Regions from separate parts of the Homo sapiens genome. Here regions 2 and 3 are each reported to be linked to region 1. The links are microRNA targets in miRTarBase. Many come from high-throughput screens and were not tested one by one. Region 1 holds a microRNA gene; each other region holds the end of a gene's coding sequence.

Region 1 (5,075 bases):
GAGAAGGGGCTTTGCCTGCTCACCTGAAAGTTCCCACCCAAGCCGGGCCCAGAAAACAAAATGAATTATCTACATGGTCATCCAATCAGCCACCAAATGGCATTACCTAGGTCCATCATCATGTACCAAGCCACAGGTCAGACCCAGGGCCCCCCAAATTAACAAGACACAGGCACTGTCCTCAGGAAGTGGAGATCTAGCCAGGTCAGACCCACACACAAATAACACTGATACTAGAGATAATGAGATTGGGAATTATGATTCAGCCATTCAACCTGGGCTTATGTGGCATCTACACCACCTGGCCCTGATTTCAGTAGTGAGCACAGTTGACAGGGTCCCTTCCCTTCACAGGTGAGCCATGTAGTCCACAAGTGGAGGTGGTCGTAAGTGAAAACCACATTACCAGCATGGTAAAGGGTTAGAAAGAGGGCACCGGGTGGGCGAGAACATGAAGCAGGGGGTGCTGATGGCTAAAGAAGTAAAGGAGGGGCTGGGCACTGTGGTTCATGCCTATAATCCCAGCACTTTGGGAGACCAAGGCGGGTGGATCACCTGAGGTCAGGAGTTCTAGACCAGCCTGGGCAACGTGGTGAAACCCTGTCTCTACTAAAAATACAAAAATTAGCCAGGCATGGTGGTGCACGCCTGTAGTCCCAGCTACTTGGGAGGCTGGGGCATGAGAATTGCTTTAACCCGGAAGGTGGAGTTTGCAGTGAGCCGAGATCGTGTCACTGCACTCCAGCCTGGGCGACAGAGGGAGACTCTGTCTCAAAAAAAAAAAAAAGTCAAGGAGGGTTTCCCAGAGTGGCCACTTGATTAGAGACCTAGCACAGGAGGAAGAGATGGGCAGGGAGAGTGACGGGGAGCAGCACAGTCCCTGGGAGCCCGAAGTGGGTGGGCACAGGGCTCCCTAGGAGAATGGAAGGACATCTATGAGCTGTAGCCCAAGAGGAAGAGGTCACTGGGGCTAGATGCGGCAGACCCTCGCAGGCTTTGGGAAGGGCTTCAGAATTCAGCCTGAGGGCAATGGGGAGCCCTTTTGGGATATTAAACTTGAGTAAGATATGAGCATATTTGCATCTTGAAAAATCATTATGGGAAGATGGCTGGGAAGAGAGGAGGAGTGGCAGAAGAAAGATAGGTTGGAGACAATTGATTGCTCGATGATATAAAATGTTAAGTACCATGAATGATGCTGTTAGGCTGGAATGCGCCAAGCATAAAGGTGGGGCATGGCATCAAAAGGTAGGTCAACATATTAAATAATTCCATGTATTGAAATATCCAGAAAATATATAGACAGATCTATAGAGATAGAAACTGGTCTGCCCAGGACTAGGGGTTGTCTAAGGATAAGGAGCTTCTTTTTTGGATGGTGAAATAACCTAAAATATATTGTGCCATTGTTTGCACAACTTTGTGAATATATTAAAAACCTGTTAATTGTACTCACTAAATGTCCTCCTTCTAAATTAAGCTGTTCTTGACAAGAAAAGGAAAGAAACAAAGAAAAGAAGAGAAAAAAGGTCAAGGTTTGGTCCTGGGTGCTCAAATGGCAGGCCACAGACAGGAAACACAGTTGTGAGGAATTACAACAGCCTCCCGGCCAGAGCTGGAGAGGTGGAGCCCAGGTCCCCTCTAACACCCCTTCTCCTGGCCAGGTTGGAGTCCCGCCACAGGCCACCAGAGCGGAGCAGCGCAGCGCCCTGTCTCCCAGCCTGAGGTGCAGTGCTGCATCTCTGGTCAGTTGGGAGTCTGAGATGAAGCACTGTAGCTCAGGAAGAGAGAAGTTGTTCTGCAGCCATCAGCCTGGAAGTGGTAAGTGCTGGGGGGTTGTGGGGGGCCATAACAGGAAGGACAGAGTGTTTCCAGACTCCATACTATCAGCCACTTGTGATGCTGGGGAAGTTCCTCTACACAAGTTCCCCTGGTGCCACGATCTGCTTCACGAGTCTGGGCATGTCCTGACTCCTCTGTGTACCCCAGTGTGTCCATCTTAGCATGAGGCGTTAGCATTTCCCCAGCACCCTGCCTCTGCTTTCTCTTTCTGAGCCCATGGCAGACACAGCTAATCAGTAAAGGCATATATTCTTTTTTTTTTGAGACACAGTCTCACTCCATCACCCAGGCTGGAGTGCAGTGGCATAATCTCAGCTCACTGCAACCTCCTCCTCCCAGGGTCAAGCAATTCTCGTGCCTCAGCCTCCCAAGTAGCTGAGATTACAGGTGTGCGCCACCACACCTGGCTAATTTTTGTATTTTTAGTAGAGATGGGGTTTCACTATGTTGGCCAGGCTGGTCTCAAACTCCTGACTTCAGGTGATCTGCCCGCCTCGGCCTCCCAAAGTGCTGGGATTACAGGCATGAGCCTCCACGCCCCGCCAGGCATCCATTCTTGAAGTGCTCAGATGCAGCTTCAGAATCCTCAACAATGAGCCCTGGAAAGCCACTAGTACTGATTCACAGCTGAAACTCATTCATCATTTGTGGATCAAACAATTCCTAAAAACCCTTTCAGCCCTGAAGATAAAAATTCTGGCCTTTGAGTCAGGGTCTTCACTCTGTACTTCTAACCTTGGCTCCGGGGTATTGCCGAAACCAGTCCAGGCACGTCACAAATGTCTGACTTCTCCCAGAGGCTTCAGAAGCACAATGAGCAGCAGAGGAGAGCCATGGAGCCAAGCACAGTCTCATTTAACCTCCCCAAAAGCTTGGGAAGTGGGTGGTGTTATAGCCCCATTTTACAGATGAGAAAAACTGAGGCTTATTTAAGCAGCTCACCTAAAGTCACATATTGATTGTGCTGAGCTGAGATTGTACCCTAATCTGCCTTCAAATCCATGTTTTTACCCATTGCATGTGATTATGGAACCTGGGACCGAGGAGCAGGAGGAGAACATTCTAAATTCTGCTCCCATCTTGTCTTTACATCTCAGGTCACTTTTAGCAAAGACAGACCCGGACACTTGCCATTAATACTACAGGCTTCCTTCCTCCTACCCCCTTCCCCCAATCTTATTCATCTCACCTCTCCAGTAGGTCGTGGACTCATGCATTTTATAATTAAAGAAGGCCAAGGCTCAGGGGTTAAGTGACTTACTGGAGGTTATCAGAGAGGAAGTTGCCAAACCCAGGCTAGGAACTGAATGGTTGGTTTAAATCCACCCCTCTGGCAGGAGACTGGGGAATACACATGAGCCGTGCAGACAGCAGAGGGCAGTCCTGGGGGTGGGGGCGCCAGAGGGTTTCCGGTACTTTTCAGGGCAATTGAAGTTCCGGTCACTACTCCCCCCCAGAGCAATAAGCCACATCCGGCGACGTGTGGCACCCCACCCTGGCTGCTACAGATGGGGCTGGATGCAGAAGAGAACTCCAGCTGGTCCTTAGGGACACGGCGGCCTTGGCGCTGAAGGCCACTCGCTCCCACCTTGTCCTCACGGTCCAGTTTTCCCAGGAATCCCTTAGATGCTAAGATGGGGATTCCTGGAAATACTGTTCTTGAGGTCATGGTTTCACAGCTGGATTTGCCTCCTTCCCACCCCACAGTTGCCCCCCAATGGGGCCTCGGCTGGCTCACAGGATGAGGGTTCAAGAAGAAGGCTGTCCCTGGAGGTAAGAGGGCTTATGAACCATGTTCCAAACCTTTGCGTTGCTTTTCTTTCCATCGTGTCTATTTCATAACATCCCTGTGAGGCTGGATGTGGGAACTTCAGCACTGCCGTACTCTTGGGAAATTTGTCCAAGGCCACCCGGCTGAGCAGCGGTTGAACCAGGACACCATCAGGCATGCGTTTCTTGTCTCCACCACACCCTCAACCCACTTCCCAACGCGCCTTGCGACAGGGGCTGCGGTATTGCATCCACATGACTGATAAACTAGTAAACACACATGAATTCATTTTAAAAGTGTATTCAATCAGTTAGGTAAACTAAAAACCTTAAGTCTTCGTTCGATTTGGAATGCAGCCAGAGAACAAATGGAAAATTTTTCAAGGTAGAGAAGATGAAAACTCAGAACGCCCTCTTGTGGCATCTCTACCCACCCTAGGAACACTATGGCTCTTCCCCTACACATGGTGATTGCTAACCTTGCTACAAGACGTTGGACACACACACACACACACACACACACACACACACACTGAGGTTCCTTTTGCCCCCTCACTTTTGAGCCAGTGACTACTGAAACCCTCTCCATTGTTGCACCACCAGCAATGCCCCCATCACTTCCTCTCATTTACTTCCACAGGCTGGTTCATCCTCAAAGCCCTCCTTACGTAGATCTGTGGGATCAGTGAGGCTCAGAGAGGTAAAGTGGCCAGCCCAAGGTCGCCCAGACAGCAAAAGGCAGGGCCAGCGCTGATTTCAAGTCCAATGGCCTATGGCAATTTCTTAGCCAAAAGCAAAATCTACAAAAATAAAAAGTCAGGCACAGTGGTGAGTGCCTACAGTCCCAGCTACTGAGGAGGCCGACGGGGGAGGACCACTTGAGCTTGGGAGTTCCTGGCTGCAGAGAGCTATGATTGTGCCTGTGAATAGCCAATGCACTCCAGCCTGAGCAAGATAGGGAGACCCTGTCTCTAAAAAATACCTAAATAATTTTAAAAGTCAGCCTCTCTGACTGCCTATAGAGAATGCTAACTAACTGAATGACAGAAGACCTAATGTAATCCAGGTGCAAAATCAGAACTTTCCGGCCGGGCGCGGTGGCTCACACCTGTAATCCCAACACTTTGGGAGGCCCAGGCGGGTGGATCACGAGGTCAGGAGTTCAAGACCGGCCTGCCCAACATGGCAAAACCCCGTCTCTACTAAAAATACAAAAAATTAGCTGGGCATGGTGGTGGCCACCTATAATCTCAGCTACTCAGGAGGCTGAGGCAGGAGAATTGCTTGGACCCGGGAGGCAGAGGTTGCAGTGAGCTGAGATCGCGCCACTGCACTCCAGCGTGGGGGACAAAAGCGAAACTCTGTCTCAAAAAAAAAAAAATTAGAACTTTCCCCGTACTCTTGCTAGGGCTTTTCATGGAGATGTAGAAATGGTAGTAAGTGCCAAGGCCCCAGAACCCTCA
Region 2 (5,069 bases), not on the chromosome of region 1:
TCGCCCAGGCTGGAGTGCAGTGGCACGATCTTGGCTCACTGCAAGCTCCACCTCCCGGGTTCACGCCATTCTCCTGCCTCAGCCTCCCGAGTAGCTGGAACTACAGGCGCCCACCACCACGCCCGGCTAATTTTTTGTATTTTTAGTAGAGACGGCGTTTCACTGTGTTAGGATGGTCTCAATCTCCTGACCTCGTGATCCGCCTGCCTTGGCCTCCCAAAGTGTTGGGATTACAGGCGTGAGCCACCGCGCCCGGCTGATACTGCTCTTGTCTTTCATACATTGCTCTGAAGATAAGTTCTATAAAAAAATTCCAGGTCGGGTGTGGTGGCTCACACCTGTAATCCCAGTACTTTGGGAGGCCAAGGTGGGTGGGTCACCTGAGGTCAGGAGTTCAAGATCAGCCTGGACAACATGGTGAAACCCCATCTCTACTAAAAATATACAAACTAGCTGGATGCGGTAGCACACACCTGTAGTCCCAGCTACTTGGGAGGCTGAGGCAGGAGAATGGCTTGAACCCAGGAGGTGGAGGTTGCAGTGAGCTGAAATCACGCCACTGCATTCCAGCCTGGGTGACAGAGCGAGACTCTGTCTCAAAAAAAAAAAAAATTAAATAAATTCCAGAAGCAACAAAATGATCAAAGATCCCTGCCTGTACAATGACTCCAACTTACGAGCTTCCCTGTTCTCCAATTTTCACCTTTCATGTTTAGGCACAAAGAGACCGAGTGGCTCGGGTGGCTTCCCAGGAGGCAGTTAGAGGCAGCCCAGTTTAGGAGTTTGAGTGTAGCAGGTCAGCCCTGGCACCGGTGTCAGCCACTGTTCACAGGGACTGAGACTGTGAAATGACACACTGCATATTGTCTCTATAGGAGGTCGAATGGGAAAAAGTTACCTGGAGTATGAATTTTCTTTAAACCAATAGGGAGCTTAAATGTGACTGTTGATACAGGTTTTAAAATGTAATACAAACATATTTACGAACCTGGGGCTTGACTAGAGGCTGGAGGACCCCAAAAAGGAGCGCCACTCACTCACTGTGTCCTTGCATCCTCAACTGCCCGCATGTCTCCAGAGGCTGCTTAGTGCCCACACGCCTGGGACCAACTGTGACTCCAGGCTGCTGCTTGTCACCTTGCCTTAGTTTCTGGCTGATCACCTAATCACTCTGGAGCTGAGAATATCCTTCTCCCCACATCTAACCCGTGGGCAGAATTCTGTGAGCGTTTCCCTGCCTTTAGGACTGATGACACTCGGTGTGTGGGTGGAGGTGGGGGAGTCGTCAGTCTTATGATGAGTCTCTTCTGCTGGAGACTTTGGTCCACGAGAGAGGGTAGGGGGCAGGGGAGAGGCCGATACTCCTACAGGGGGGGTCCCCCCTTGCTCCCCATCAAAATGCAGAGCACCCCATTACTCCAGCACCAGAGTTGGGAAGGGACACAAGAGGCAAGGGCTGGCTTCAGTCTTGGGCTCCTGTCTGTCCCAACCACTGACTCCAGCATACGGTTTAAACACTTGGGAGTTCTTGATATCTGAGGAAGAAAGGGCCACTGACTTTTTCTTTCCTAGGAGGCAAAAGTGGATGGAAGAGAGAAGGGGTTTGCTCAGATGGGCATGAACAGCCCCTGAGCCCCATCCCCACTCCCCTGGTGGGCCCTGATGCTCTCCCACGCAGGGATTCTCAAGGTGGATGGTGTAGAGAACCATCAGCCTCCTTTTCCCACGGTGACAGAAGGCAGTGCAGGCAGAGGTGGCGAGGGGGCAGCTGGGGACGGTCAGTGTCACCGGGAATGTGAAAGTGGGCCCCCTCTTCCTGTCGGGCTAACATGCTGTTTGCCTTACAGGGACCAGTGTATCAGTTGCGTGGAGATACTAGAGACACACTTGCCCAGCTGGGAATTGCAGAGCTAGTGCATTTCTCCCAAAGCACAGACTAATACCCCAGATTTAAAAAAAGAACATAAAAAATAAAGTACCACACATATTGCACTTTTTGCCGAACGAAATTTTTACCTCACGTTCATCTCACCAAAGTCTCTTCAGAGGAGCCTGGTTTACAGGGTGATGAAGCTGATGATGATACAGTAGTGTACACACTGCTAACGTGAATCAGACTGGAAAGCAAGTCAGTACTTCAGAGTAGCCCCGCAGAAAAAGAGCGATACTAAGCCTTCTTAGTGTTTTGTTTGTTAGTAGTGATGAAGAGAAAACTGCTTGGAAGCTTCCATGGGTCACTAGTTAGGGACAGAGCAGCACAGGTGATCAGACAGGGCTGAGCAAACACCTGACTGACCAACAGAACCAGTCTCCTCAGCAGCTTACATTGCAGTCAATACAGAGGGTTATGGAATTTATTGATTTCTGCTTGAAATAAACAAGATAAGCAAATAGGAGCTTACAACACAGGTCCCAGCAGGAGGGGTCACGCTCTGCATCAGGCCGGTGTCCACGCCGCTGCCGTGTGTGACGGATCCTGATAGGCCTGGCTGCTGTAGGGCACCTCTCGATTTCTCTCTGGGTCCTTAACCTTCCAGTAGCCTCTCTGCAGTCCCTCATCGGCTGGCCTAACCGTCCTGCCATAGCTCCCAGGTCTCCTGGGCTAAGCAGCTCATGGCATTGTTGGGGGGCAGGAGTTTATGTCGATCTGTAACTACACCATTCCTGCAGTTCTGAAATGAGTGGCCCCCATTTTCAATCTGCAGGCATTTTAATATCGCAAATATTGTAGCACTTCTGTAGTATATTTTGGGAAAACGTCTTCCTTCAGTCTAAACAAATCAAGCCCCATTTTATAACTGGCTATTTTGTAAAGACTCAAAACAGATTAGAGATCTTAATGAAATGATCTCTTAAATGAAATGATGTTCTTTATTTCACGAAATCATCAATCTTAAGCACGAGCAGGAATAAACAACTCCCAGAAGAAGCTTAATTCATTCTTCCTGGATTTTCACTGTGTGTTATTAAATCACAAAAATGACAGTCCCCACACTGCCCTTTCCCACTGACACCAAGTCCAACCGTGAGCACAGTGCCTCTGCGAAGCATCCTGGCACCCATGGTGAGCGCTGGCGACCAGGCAGTCTCTGGCCAGCAACAGGGACTGCTCAAGTTACCGACGTTGGTAGGAGCTGGGCTCGCATGGCCAGAATGGAACCCCCTAGACTTTCCACACGTCACCTGCCTGAACGCTAACTACAAAGAGGAAAGGCAACTTAAAGGTGTTTTCTAGATGCAGCATCAGTTAGTCCCTCTCTTTGTGCTTTAAGGAAGATGCTTTGTGCTTAACACATTCATCTGCTGATGGGACAAGCCATTCTAAAGGGCAGAAATGATCATCTTTAGAATTAACACTGACTTTGTAACACCTGGATGTTAACTGTCCAAATGGCAAATTATTCATCATTTCTAGGGATACAGTTAGCTAGCTGTAGCATCTAATTTTTACTTACTTTGATGACTGAATTGTAAGTGTTGGTTAAGTTTTATTAGTAATATAATGTTTGGCAGATGATCTGCTTAAATGGTTAACACATCTGTGGTTCTTTCTTTGAATATTGCTGTAATACTTGAACATTTCATTACAAGTCAAAACTTTAACGAAATTAAGAATGCTGATTCCCACATGGTGGAAAACAAACTCTGAAGTGACTTTGGATTTAGCATTGACATAAATGGAAACTGTTGGTTTCTACAGAAAAGAAAGAATTAAAGCATGATCTGGGGGAAAGGCACCGCACTACCACTTCACATGGGACAGAAAAGTTCATTTATCATGTCCTTAAAATCTCTAAGCCCTATATGAAACTGTCCAAATATACAAAGCTCAATAAACTACTAGCAACATATAGTGTAAGGTCAAAGTAGTTATTACATCGGAAAAGAGACAACAGGTACCCTGGAGACCGACTGCCCGCAAGCCAGCAGTGTCCACGAGAAACTGCAGGAAGAGCCTGTCTTCCCTGGCCCAGGGCTGGTGCTCTTGATGCGTTCTTGAGTTTCTTGCCCCCTGCCTCCACGGTGGCGGGTCTCCTGTCAGTTCCACGTGTGACACCTCTGGAGTCCTGAGTATATTCTGACACTCGGCAACCCAGGGCACCTTCTGAAGGGGTGTGTCACCTGCTTCCGAATGGAGATGAAGGCGGTTTCTGGGGTCAGTACCAGCTGTTATTTAGTGGCCCCTGAAACACAGCTCATGCCCCACTGCTTTGTGATGGCCTTGGGGGACAACTTGCATCAGCAGCTAAGAACTTAGGATTCAATGACAAAGCACAGCTTTCCTTTATTTCCTGTGCATCTGATTTCCTGATGTCTTCTTGATTTGCCTTGTAGCAATATGTGGTTGCTCAGCTTCAGTGAAAAATATATTGCCTTTTCCCCCATATATATGCAATAGCACACACCCTTTCTGCTTTCACCAAGGTTGCCCTTGATAATAAACGGATGTAATCCTGCATAACACCTGGGTCTGAATGTCTTCTTAGGAACACATTTGTCAGTGCTGCCCTCGAGAGCTTGCTCCACTCGACCGAAGGGCAGGAGCCTCAGCCTACAACTATGTTCCAGCACTTGCCACAGAAAACTTTGTGGTGGGGCAGAACCAGGAGGAAGCAACATCCACCCCAGCCAGACCCTCTGATTCCAGTTGGGTGGCTCGATTTCTCCCCGTTAGGGAGAGGGCAAGAAAATAAGCTTTAAATTTAAAAGGCTGGAATAAAAATAGGAACATACACTCTTCCTTCACCTGACCCACCTCAATTCCTGTGCTGAGACTAATTCACCAGGACATACCCGTTGTGTTGTGGATCCACAGCGTCTAGCATTTCACAATCAAAGAGTCCAGGTAGCTCAGAGAGGGCTAGTGGGTCGTAGCTGGAGGGGGCCTCTTGCAGTCCTGGGCTTCTGGGACAGTCTGGCCCCGTTAGGTCGCTCTGCTGGGCTCCATCCACAGGATACTGACAGGGAGTGGGATAGTCTGGCGCAGGGGAAGCAGCGCTTGGCAGCTCACAAGTCTGATAGGAGAACTGTAAGGGGGCTGGGGCAGCTCCTGGCTGTCGTGGTGGTGG
Region 3 (5,069 bases), not on the chromosome of region 1:
TTGTGAATTTTTTAGGATTTTCTATAAACAAGGCCTTTTCATCTGCAAAAGAGATAGTTTTATTTCTTTCTTTCCAATCTGGATGATTTTTATTTCTTTTCCTCATGACGAGAACCTCCAATACAATATTGAATAGAAGAGGTGAGAGTAGTCTTCTCTTATTCCTGATCTTTGAGGAACAGTTTTCAGTCATTCACCATTAACTCTGATATTCCTTGATGTCTTTGATCAGGTTGAGGAAATATTTCTACTCTTAGTTGAATATTTTTATCATGAAAAGATGTTGGGTAAATGTTTTTACATTGTTGCTTTTATTAAAATTTAACCTCAGGTTATTGATATTATAGATGAATAATTATTTTCAAAAATTTTGAGCACATACAGCAGTATCTAAAAAGCTTTTTTAGTCAAATTGTATTTGACAGGTTATTCCAGTTTTAATGATTAGAATTTTTTTTTTTTTAACATTTCACACTTAACCCTTCCCCCCCCCCATTTTTTTTTAATAGGAGTAACTTTATATATGGCTCATATTTGAGCAAAGAAGAAATTGCTTTCTCAGATCCCACTCCTGATGGAAAGCTGTTTGCAACACAGTACTGTGGCACTGGTCAATTTCTGGTATATAATTTTATTAATGGACAGAATAGCACGTAAAACAAATTCTTGCCTACACCACTAGAAGACATCTATTGAAGAGAATGGATTGGTTGCTGACTTTAACCAGGAACTAGGGCCATTTTTATTACAATGAACTCAGGACTGGCAACAACCATATGGTTGTTCCATTTTCATAAAATTGGAAACAATGCAGTAATAGCTTATTGTTTTGTTTTTTAAAGAAGATATTTTATTATCTTTTACAGAAATTTATGATTGATGTATTTTATCTATAGTTATTTAGACATGTTTACATGCAGCAGATAATTGTTCATAGTGGACTGAAAACTAATGCAAGGACTATGGTCTCAGTGATAAGTATATTTTGAAGTTCTTAATATGGAAATATACCAGTGTAGCTTGGTACTGTATTTTTTTATATTGATCTGCTGATACCAGTGATAGGCTTAAAGATTGTATTTTCACAGAGTGGAAACCAATTTTTTTAGTTATTGTTCAAGGAGGGTGCAATATTAAGTGTTTTGGAATTTGAAGCTAATTTTTAAAAGGCCTGAACTATACTTTGAAGAAACCCCTATAGAAAAGGAAAGCTCCAGCTAAATAGGAAGAATTAGAATATTGAGCTTTTTTTTCCTGATTTTTCTCTTTCCTATCTTTGATGGAAGGAGGAAGTAGAAAGTGGTAAAGAATTGAGGCTTTCCTTCTTGGAGAGCTGTAAATGACAAGCATTAGGAAAGGTACCCTCCTAGATTCATTATTCTTTCATTCTGGTTTCACTTTTAAAATAAATGGCAACTTGGCACACCTAGGCTGTTAACAAATCTCAAAGAGGTTTATAAAAACGTATAGAATACTTGGAAGCAAAGTATGGATGACTCGGTATCTGCTTTGTTATTCCTCAGAAATACTGCACTGAGTATATGCCCTCATTACTGGACTTCATTTTGATACTTGTCTATCCTTCATAGTGCCCTCTACTTTTAAAGGGTTTATATGTTGAAAAACTGCTGTGGCCTTTTATGACCTGTATATAATGTAGAATAAAAATAATAAAATACTTGATAGCTTTTTCTAAGTGACCAATGTACTAACTGAGAATAATGGTGTGTTGTCATTTGTGCTTTTTCAGGGTGTTTTTTTGGTTTGATATCTTGAAATATGATTAAAACATTGGCTTCCTAAAGGCAGTTTCCACCAGTTTGCCAAAGGATCATTGTGTCAGCAGCAAATCAGCTGAACTTTATTTCCAAAGGCAAAATCCTTTCTGATTATTTTAGTAACATAGTACTTTTATGATGTTGCAAATAAATGAAGGGCCCACAGCCCAAGAATGAATTACCACTGTGGTTCAACTTAGGTTATTTTTGTGAGCTGAAATGATCATATCTCAGTTGAAAACTGGCTAAAATTTAGGGCCTTAAATTAACAGGTATACATTTTATTTCCCTATAAATTTTTGCTTTTACAATTTCTAGGCCAGGCGCGGTGGCTCACGCCTATAATCCCAGGACTTTGGAAGGCTGAGGCGGGCGGATCACGAGGTCAGGAGTTCGAGACCAGCCTGACCAATATGGTGAAATCCCGTCTCTACTAAAAATACAAAAATTAGCTGGTTTTGGTGGCATGCACCTGTAATCCCAGCTGCTCAGGAGGCTAAGGCAGGACAATAGCTGGAACCTGGGAGGTGGAGATTGCAGTGAGCAGAGATTGCACCATTGTACTCCAGCCTGAGCAAAAAGAGCAAAAAACTCCACCTCAAAAAAAAATTTTTTTTTCTAGAGTGGTATAAGACTCTACATTTTGTATGGGTAGAATGATAGGGCACGGTAAATATTTCCCCGTGATTCATCAAGCTGGTCTAGCTTTTTTTTTTTTTTTTTTTTTTTTTTGAGACAGAGGCTCACTCTGTCACCCAGGCTGGAGTGCAATGGCATGACCTCAGCTCACTGCAACCTCCACCTCCTAGGCTCAAGCGATTCTCCTGCCTCAGCCTCCAGAGTAGCTGGGATTACAGGCACCTGCCACCACGGCCGGCTAATTTGTTTTTGTATTTTTTAGTAGAAACAGGGTTTCACCACATTGGCCAGGCTGGTCTTGAACTCCTGACCTCACGTGGTCCACCTGCCTCGGCCTCGCAAAGTGCTGAGATTATAGGTGTGAGCCACTGCACCTGGCCCTAGCTTTTGATACTGTCATTTCCCTTTGGGCTTGAGACTGTTCTAGTCAATCCTGGTCTCATTGTTTGCCTGACAGGTACCATGATTTAAAAAAAAAAAAAAAAAACAGAATGAAATTTTGGGATATAGTGTAGACTCTCTAGTAACTGTTAATCCCATAATACAGGTCCAATTTCCATAAACAATAGTATACTACTTTGACTACTTTTGACTTGGTTTCAAGGTGACCTGGAGGTGGAAGAGGGTATATTGGGTGGTTGGTTTATATGTTATTATTACTGAGAAACCAGTTTATTTTCATGTTTATACTGAAGATATAGCCTCCCAAATTTTACAATTTAGGTATTTCTCTAAGAATAGTATTATTAGTTAATACCTAACATTTGAGTGTTTGCTATGTGTCAGACCCTGTGTGTTTAGTCCTGCATTATTTTATGTAATCATTACGACAGTCCTATGAGGTAGGGTTTATAATTGAGGAATCTGGAACTTAGATGATAATTAAGAGCCGTTTGTGTGAAAAGTGTTGAAACACTGAACTAAAGCTGTGATGTGGAGATGAAGACGAGACAGATACACATTGAAAAGATAAAATTGAAGAATTGACACAGTTGAATTGATAGGAATTTATAAACAACCAGAAAAAGATCATGGCAAAGAGGTTAAGGTAAGTGGGAATTTTGGTTTGGGTAATTGAATTAGATTGACAGATGGGAATACAGGGGAATTAGGTTGGGAGGATTGGATGGGGATGTCCTCAGTTTTGGTCAAGATTTTAAGGTGGTTGTAGAAAGAGTCTCTTAAGTGGAGAAACCTTTTAGTATACAATTGGATATGTGAATCTAGAGTTTCAGAAAGGTTCTAACTGAGAAACAAATTTATGAGTTCACTTATTTATTTGAAGGTTCACAAGGTCACCCTGGGGTTTGTAAAATGAGAAGGTAGAAGAGAGTTGTGAGGTACACCATCATTTAAGAGTCTCAAAGAAGACTGCCTAAGAAGGCATGAGCAGCAAGGTAGGAGAGCCAGAAGAGAGTGGTAGAAACCAAGGGAAAAATGTCAAGAATCAAAGAATGATCAACCCTGTCATACCACAGTTGAAGACTGAAGAGAGCCCAAGTGATGTTAGGAAAAGAGCAGTCTCAGTGGAGTGGTGGAGGCAGCAGGGACACGGTGAGTGTACACTAATGGCCACAGACTGTAGAAGAGGGTGAGTCTGTAATTGCTGACTATATAAAGGTGCTTATAGATTTTTTGTTAGCAGCCCTCATGTAGTTGTTGGTTGTTTATAAAAATATCTAGCATAGAGACATGGTAAGAGCCACAAATATAGTCAGGAACTACAAGATTTTATGGGCGATGCTTTTATCTGCATGGACACACAGATAAAAAGCAGTATTTTACTACTTCATAATATGCAAGAGTGAACTTGGTTTATCTACTGAAAGCCTGACTGTTGTAAGGACAGTCAGTGAGTACAACAAACCTGCAGTGTTATTTTAATTGTTCTTGTTTACTTTGCACGGCTGCCCAGCTATAGAGTCTTATCCTTCTGGATGGGAACACAGCTGTATTCCTGCCCATCCACATTGCAGCTAGGGTTGAGATTGCTGAGTGAGTTGATTTCTAGGGTAGTGACTCTAGACATACATTTTCTTTCTCATGGCTCCTGAGTCTTTAGGCAGAAAAAGGGATGAGTTCTGTCTTTTAGCAACCCCCCACCCCCACCCTTCTGGTAAAAATAAAATACACTGGACTAGTAAAAATAAAATATGTGGAATGAAGTGGTCAGAAAAGAACTTACTGGTGTTGCCTTTTTTTTTTTTTTTTAACTTAATACCATCATCTATTGTCATAGTCACTGAAGTAGATGCTTTAACTCAACAACACTTGATAGTTGAGAGCACAGTGAATTTATTATGTGAATGACTTTTTCTTTGGCCTTAGCGGCAATTCCTAAAGTCATCTTTAGCAGTATTTTTACTGTTGTTGTTTTGTTTTCAGTGAAGCCAAGGTTTCAGTGTTAGAGTAGTATTCTCCTAGACTCAGAGGAAGCTTTAAGGGCCAATTTCCAGTTTCTGTGTCTAAAGAGAAGCTTGATAAATGTTCGTTCTCTGGATGTTGTTTCAGGCCTAAGTAGTTTAGTGTGATGTTGCAGCAGTCAGTTTCACAGTTAATTAATAGTCTTTTCAAGGCAGCTGCTTTGGAATGTATAGTGGAACACCAGTAGTCTTTACTTTCCTCTGAAAGTCTGTCATTACACTTACAAAT

Evidence for each region. The annotated mature microRNA hsa-miR-143-5p reads GGUGCAGUGCUGCAUCUCUGGU and lies in region 1 at 1,726-1,747, shown strand. An mRNA with a match to its seed (bases 2 to 7 or 8) in the 3' UTR can be bound and repressed. Matches are read on the target gene's strand: a 7mer-m8 pairs with bases 2 to 8, a 7mer-A1 pairs with bases 2 to 7 and ends in A, and an 8mer does both.
Region 2: miRTarBase lists SIK2 as a target of hsa-miR-143-5p. Seed matches in the 3' UTR shown: 7mer-m8 at 15-21.
Region 3: miRTarBase lists ESCO1 as a target of hsa-miR-143-5p. Seed matches in the 3' UTR shown: 7mer-m8 at 1,528-1,534.

Annotation. Positions count from the first base shown.
Region 1 is chr5:149,427,219-149,432,293 of GRCh38, forward strand. It overlaps MIR143 (microRNA 143), which reads left to right and starts at 1,700; the gene lies at 1,700-1,805. CARMN (cardiac mesoderm enhancer-associated non-coding RNA) reads left to right here. Exons shown (of 5, transcript NR_105060.1): 4 at 1,665-1,821. MIR145 (microRNA 145) reads left to right here and starts at 3,428; the gene lies at 3,428-3,515. RefSeq lists an enhancer at 3,768-4,062.
Region 2 is chr11:111,723,836-111,728,904 of GRCh38, reverse strand. It overlaps SIK2 (salt inducible kinase 2), which reads right to left. Exons shown (of 15, transcript NM_015191.3): 15 at 1-5,069. The coding sequence ends at 4,776. It also overlaps a transcript of PPP2R1B not described here. Among named protein-coding and RNA genes, the nearest start is that of PPP2R1B, 40 kb to the left of the region's middle. RefSeq lists an enhancer at 5,063-5,069.
Region 3 is chr18:21,525,931-21,530,999 of GRCh38, reverse strand. It overlaps ESCO1 (establishment of sister chromatid cohesion N-acetyltransferase 1), which reads left to right. Exons shown (of 12, transcript NM_052911.3): 12 at 510-1,716. The coding sequence ends at 657. GREB1L (GREB1 like retinoic acid receptor coactivator) reads right to left here. Exons shown (of 33, transcript NM_001142966.3): 33 at 4,888-5,069. Among named protein-coding and RNA genes, the nearest start is that of ESCO1, 72 kb to the left of the region's middle.